Homo sapiens: one gene and its partner. The protein of the gene in region 1 purifies or fractionates together with the protein of each later gene. This does not show direct contact. Each region holds a gene or a part of one and is shown in the gene's direction. Other genes may lie near its edges.

Evidence for each region. Proteins that work in one complex are often made in the same cells at the same time.
Region 2: the proteins of SLU7 (region 1) and AGGF1 purify together in Homo sapiens (affinity purification with mass spectrometry; one large-scale study listed by BioGRID and IntAct). This does not show direct contact.

What each region holds. Positions count from the first base shown.
Region 1 is NC_000005.10:160,412,582-160,416,081, reverse strand, and holds part of SLU7 (pre-mRNA-splicing factor SLU7), read left to right. Parts: intron 1-771; coding exon of another isoform or gene 772-787; coding exon 788-957; intron 958-1,609; coding exon 1,610-1,763; intron 1,764-2,102; coding exon 2,103-2,183; intron 2,184-2,461; coding exon 2,462-2,626; intron 2,627-3,500. UniProt on the Homo sapiens protein: Required for pre-mRNA splicing as component of the spliceosome. Participates in the second catalytic step of pre-mRNA splicing, when the free hydroxyl group of exon I attacks the 3'-splice site to generate spliced mRNA and the excised lariat intron.
Region 2 is NC_000005.10:77,043,904-77,047,403, forward strand, and holds part of AGGF1 (angiogenic factor with G patch and FHA domains 1), read left to right. Parts: intron 1-2,443; coding exon 2,444-2,774; intron 2,775-3,500. UniProt on the Homo sapiens protein: Promotes angiogenesis and the proliferation of endothelial cells. Able to bind to endothelial cells and promote cell proliferation, suggesting that it may act in an autocrine fashion.

The sequences.
Region 1 (3,500 bases):
TCACTACAAAAAATACGAAAAAATTAGCCGGGCATGGTGGCGGGCACCTGTAATCGAGCTACTCGGGAGACTGAGGCAGGAGAATCGCTTGAACCTGGGAGGCGGAGGTTGCAGTGAGCTGAGATCATGCCACTGCACTCCAGCCTGGGCAACAGAGCGAGACTCTGTCTCTAAAAAAAAAAGAAAAAGAAAAACCAAGAGAATGTAGTGTCAGGGAAGTCAAGACATAATATATAAAAAGGGAAGGAACAGAGCTGAAAAATGTCCATTGGATTTAGCACAATGGTCCTTGATGACTTAATGATGTAACTCTTTTCTTTAGAATGGTAGGGAATGGAGGGCTAAGTTAGAGTGAGTGAGGATGAAAATAGAAGGTGAGGAAATGGAGGCAGTGAATATAGATAACTCTTGAGATATTCATTCTTGAAGGGGTACAGAGATAGGACCCTCTTTTCTCTCATTAAGAGTTACTGTGTTAGAAAAGTTTGAGACATACACAGAAAGAGGGATTAAGGATGGATATGAGAAAAGAGTCCTGTGAAATTTTAAATACACGTGTGTGTCTCTCTCCATTTGTAAATTGGAGTTGAGAGAGAAACAGTGCTAACAGTATGTAGAGACCTTGAGGAGGGGGAAGAGACCCTTCCTTACACATAATATAGGAGAAAAAAAAACATATGAAACAGTATATATTATTAGGATGTATTTTTGGTAGTTTGAGTGAATTCATGAAGGCCTACTTTTTACTGTAAGTTTCACTTCTTTTCCTAGAGGAGGCCAGATAACCATGTCAGCCACAGTTGTAGATGCAGTTAATGCTGCACCCCTATCGGGGTCCAAAGAAATGAGTTTGGAAGAACCAAAGAAGATGACCAGAGAGGACTGGAGAAAGAAGAAGGAGCTAGAAGAACAGCGAAAATTGGGCAATGCTCCTGCAGAAGTTGATGAAGAAGGAAAGTAAGTACTTAATTTTTTGTATGATCCATTCATTCAGAATTCAAATTCATGTCTACTTAGTTTATTAATTTTTCATCCTTTGAGAGGAACCTCTCTTCATTTATGTCATTTTTGTTTTTTATTTTATCAAACTCATATGCATATGGTTTAATAATGAAATTATGTTGAAGGGCTTATAATGAATAGCAACAGTCCTTTTTTACCGTTCCCACCCCTGGCCTGCTCTACAGAAGTGACTGCTATGAAATCTTTCTATTTTGAGTTTTTCTGGTTGTTACCGTCACATCTCTAGATAATAATACCTACACAATTATTTTAATTAATTGACTATAGACATTATTTGAACCAAAACTTCTTGTGATAGAAGATTTAGATTACTAACACACATCTCTATTTTCCTTCCTCTCTTGTCCCCCTTCAGTTATATCACTATTCTTAGTTTCTTAGTTGGAAATATTTTCACTCTAAAATAAATTACTTCTTTATTTTTAATTATTCTTTATTATAGTATAGAGATAGCAACCTTGTTCTCTTCCCCCTACCACTGCAATATTTCTGTTCTTAGATTTTGTATAAGCTACCTTTGTAATTGTAATACTGATTATTTTCCAATTTTATCCTTAAATTTTTTTTTTTTTTACTTTAATTACAGAGACATCAACCCCCATATTCCTCAGTATATTTCTTCAGTGCCATGGTATATTGATCCTTCAAAAAGACCTACTTTAAAACACCAGAGACCACAACCAGAAAAACAAAAGCAGTTCAGCTCATCTGGAGAATGGTACAAGAGGGGTGTAAAAGAGGTATGTAGGCAACCTGTATACATCTTCATGGATATGGAGAGTTTAAGAACTTAATGTAAGAATTTTTAATGCAATACTATTTAAAGTAGAAACAGATAATAAAACCCTTTATCTGGTATTGAAATTCACAGTGCATTACTATTTTATCTTTGTGTTTCTTATATAAATTTTACACTCCTGAACTCTTTAAAGTTTCACATTTATAAATGTGTGGAGACTCTAACTTATTTTCCTTTTAACAAAGAAATCATTTCCCTAGACAAAATAGTAATGAGAGTCAAAGTTATTTCTAACTTACGTGGTTAAGACATTTTTGTTTTTCTTTATATATATTTATAGAATTCCATAATTACTAAGTACCGCAAAGGAGCATGTGAAAATTGTGGGGCCATGACACACAAAAAGAAAGACTGCTTTGAGGTAAGTTCACCTTTGAAAATTTTGAAAACCGTTGTCAGAGTCTTTCTTTTTTCTTTGTCAGAGAGCTAACTTCTCTTTTTCTGAAATCACCTATATTTAGGTACAAGTTAAATAAAAATTAGTTTCAGTGGAATTGGTTCAACACCAACAAAATTTTCTACTGTAAGACTAACTGTAAATTGAATAGATCGTAAAGTGCCCACTCTGTAAAAGTTGTATGAAGTTTTCCTTTGGGCCATAAAAACTTAGGAAAAGATTAAATCTTACTCTGTTTTTAGAGACCTAGGCGAGTTGGAGCCAAATTTACAGGTACTAATATAGCTCCAGATGAACATGTCCAGCCTCAACTGATGTTTGACTATGATGGGAAGAGGGATCGGTGGAATGGCTACAATCCAGAAGAACACATGAAAATTGTTGAAGAGTATGCCAAAGTTGATTTGGTGAGCAAAATTCCCTGCTTTCCTGGGGTTTTTAAAGAATCGTCCTTTTGCTGTATCTCTAGCAGCTCTACTTTTCAAATCTTGAAGCACTTTAAAAATGGTAGCATTTTTATAATAGTAGTACTACTGTATAGGCTACCTTTATAATTGTAATATTGAGTAAAGGAAATAGTGTGCTAGCCATACTTGCCAGCAGTTTCTTCTTATTTGATTCTTATATTGGTCCTTTACTCCCTGACTTAGGTAGCAAAAGATATTGGAAGCATGAAGACAGATTAGTGTCCAAAGCTTTTGGTTTTGTGAGGTTAGAAATGTATGGCCCCAAGCTATAGCTTGCCCATGAACCTATTTTATAGTTGCCTCCCATAGCATTTGGGAGTAGTAGAAAGGGAATGGATAATTTGTTTCAGAAAATTTTATTTTATTTTAACCCAACTTCAGTTTTTACTGTTATGATTTGACCTATTCACCCTTATTCCTTTGAAGTCATAGTCACACTGCCTTTTTTTTTTAATTAGAGGTATCATTTTAAAATTATAAGATTTCATATAAAAATCTGGATTTCATCTTTTCTTGAATATTGTAATATATGGTAACCCCACGCCTGCCTGGTAAGAGTCAGTCATCTAGAGTTCTGTGGCAACTGCTTGTTTTTGTCAGGGCTTGCTCCCTGCAATTTACTACTGATGCCATTTGGCTCAGTTTACATTAATGCCTGGTTCAAACACTGTGTAACTCCTGCTCTTTATAGAGTAATAGGTCTAGGGCTACAAGGAATCCCAAAGAGATAGGTTTGTTCAGTGACCTTTTCTGAAATAAATTAATTTAAAGTTATTCATTTTAAATATATAAAAATTTAGGTGGTGACTTGAAT
Region 2 (3,500 bases), about 83 Mb from region 1:
GTCTCGGCCGGGCAGAGGCGCTCCTCACATCCCAGATGGGGCGGCGGGGCAGAGGCGCTCCCCACATCTCAGACAATGGGCGGCCGGGCAGAGACGCTCCTCACTTCCTAGATGTGATGGCGGCTGGGAAGAGACGCTCCTCACTTCCTAGATGGGATGGCGGCCGGGCGGAGACGCTCCTCACTTTCCAGACTGGGCAGCCAGGCAGAGGGGCTCCTCACATCCCAGACGATGGGCGGCCAGGCAGAGACACTCCTCACTTCCCAGACAGGGTGGCGGCCGGGCAGAGGCTGCAATCTCGGCACTTTGGGAGGCCAGGGCAGGCGGCTGGGAGGTGTAGGTTGTAGTGAGCCGAGATCACGCCACTGCACTCCAGCCTGGGCACCATTGAGCACTCGACAAGAACTTTTAAGAAAAATCCTGTTGGAATTTTGAGAATTTCCTGAGGATTCTAAAAGGTACCTGTGAGGCCAAGAGAGTATCTTCATCTGTTTTCTTTATTTTTAAAGATATTTTTGAGCCTCACTTTTTGTAGGTGAAGGTTATGTGGAAGGAAGACAGTAGGGGAGATAGGAGTAAATAATTTGAAATATACATATGTGCCTCAGTGCCCATAAATAAGCCCTCCTTTCTTTTCACTTAATGACTATCTAATGTTCTGTACTGGCAAATAGCTTTCCCTGCATATGTTGTTCAGTAAGTAATAAATATACAAGATTGGAAACTGCTTTTTTAAGAGTATATACAGATAGGGAACTTTTTTGCTATAATTTTATAATGTAAAAGCTCCTCATGGTTTTTCAGCTCCTTGCCCTTGTTCTTGTTCTGGGTGAATTTGTATTGCTAGAAGTGTGTATAATTTATCACACTGTGAATGTTTAGCCAGTCTCCAAGCTGAACTTACGCTGTTATCAAAGATAGGTATGTGAGGTGGATGGATCATGAGGTCAAGAGATCGAGACCAGTCTGGCCAACATGGTGAAACCCCATCTCTACTAAAAATAAAAAAATTACCTGGGTATGGTGGTGCGCATGCCTGTAGTCCCAGCTACTCGGGAGGCTGAGGCAGTAGAATCTCTTGAACCTGGGAGGTGGAGGTTGGAGCGAGCCGAGATCGCGCCACTGCACTCCAGCCTGGGCGACAGAGCGAGACTCCGTCTCAAAAAAAAAAAAAAAGAAAGAAAGGTGTGTGAGATGCTCTCATATTTTATAAAATAACAGAAGAGCATATGAATTCGCCTCATGTTGCTCTGAGGTAGAAAGAAAAGTGAGAGTGCGTTAGAAACCAAGGGAAAAAAATGGAAAATAATTATTTACTTTTTCTAAGGCTGAAATGATAGATTTGACCATTGTATAACACGGTGACTATTGTTAATAACAATGTGTTGTATTATTGCAAACTGCTGAGAGCAAATTTTAAGTTTCTTACCACAGAAAAATAAGTATTTGAGGTAATGTACATGTTAATTAGCTCAATTTAACCACTGTACATTGTGTACGTATTTCAAAACTTCATGTTGTACATGATAAAAATACATCATTTTTGTTAATTAAAAAATGTTCATTTATTATAAGGCATATCAACTATAAATGTACAATAAATAATAAAAGACTTATGCCAGGCAAGTTAAAATTTTGGAATAAGATAGTCACAGTTAATTTGTACTTTAAACTTTTATGTATTATCAAGCTGAATCTGAAGTACTAAATTTTAGCAAAACTACAATTTTGCTACATATTGAGTACATTTGGATCTTTAAATTCATGTCATAAGTAAAGCTAATTCTGTATTTTATTTGTGTTGACTAGCTAATTGATTACCAGTTTAAAAAGAAAATTTAGAATAGGTATTCTTTAGGCCTGCACTATCCAGTAAGGTAGCCAGCAGCTCCATGTGGCTGTTGAGCACTTGAAGTTTTGCTAATCCAAACTCAAATGTGCTGTTAAGTGTAAAATACACTCTGGATGTTGCAGACTATGTAAACTATCTCATTAATAATTTTACTTTTTAAATGTGGCTACTAGAAAATGTAAAAGTACAAATATGGTTTGTGTTACATTTTTATTGGACACCATTGGTCTAGGCTATCCCATAGTCCAGGCAGTATGTGATGAGGGCCTGAACTAGGAATGTTAAGACATTGAGAATAGAGAGACAGATTTGGATATATTTTGAGAAAAGTCTGTAGCACTTCGTAATTTTATATATGGTTAAGGGGATCTCAGAGATAACTATAGGATTTTTAATTTGGATAATAAGAAGATGGTAATATCATTAACCAAGAAAGGAAATGTGAGAAGGAGAGGGGGAACAGATTGTAACCATTGTTATTTTACTGACACATATCTTCACGAATTCGTTGAAACTTGATGTAATGTTATAAGATAGTGATGTTTAAGAGTATTCTCCCCTGTTCCCTCGTATCTACCCACCCTTCTCCAGGATTTGAACTCAGAGGATCAAAAAGCCTTCAGTGTTGAACATACAAGCTGCAATGAGGAAGAAAATTTCGCAAATATGAAAAAGAAGGCCAAAATAGGCATTCATCACAAAAATAGTCCCCCCAAAGTCACTGTTCCAACTAGTGGAAATACTATAGAGTCTCCTCTTCATGAAAACATCTCTAATTCAACATCATTTAAAGATGAGAAAATCATGGAGACTGATAGTGAACCAGAGGAAGGTGAAATTACAGACTCTCAGACTGAGGATAGTTATGACGAAGCCATTACCAGTGAAGGCAATGTAACTGCAGAAGATAGTGAGGATGAAGGTGAGTAAATAATCATTATTTAAGTAAATAGCCCAGTCTGGTAACTATAAAAGAGCAAAACCATTAAAAATGTTAGTGAGTTGTAGTATATCTGCCAGAAAGTAAACATTATTTTAATGATGTTATTGAAAATGTTGTGGGTTGCCACTTGGTTATTCTTAGAGAGTAGGATGTGAATAAATGACTAATACTTAGACCTTCAGAAGGTTTCATTGTATTGAATGGCATAGTCAGTAGAATACAAAGCCAGGTTACCTGGATTCTAATCTTAAAATATAGATTAAGGCTGTTTTAGTGGGTTAGATATTTGTAGTCTACTTTTGTAACTGAGAGAGAAAAACAAGTTGTCTTTAAAAAGTATACATTATGAATTCAGCTACATGGATATTATGGTAAATCTAATTTTTTTTTACTTGAATATATAAAGACATACTTTTAAAACACAGGATTTCATATTACAGTTGGCCTTCTGTATCCATGGGTTCTACTTTAGTGGATTCAAGCAACCTCAGATCAAAAATATTCAGGGAAAAAAATGGATAGCTACATCTGTACTGAACATGTACACACTTTTTTTCTTGTTATTGTCCCCTAAATATGGTGTACCTATTTATATAGCATTTACATTGTATTAGGTGTAAGTAATCTAGAGATGATTTAAGTTATACAGAAGGATGCACATAAGTTATATGCAAATACGATACAATTTATATAAGGACTTGAACA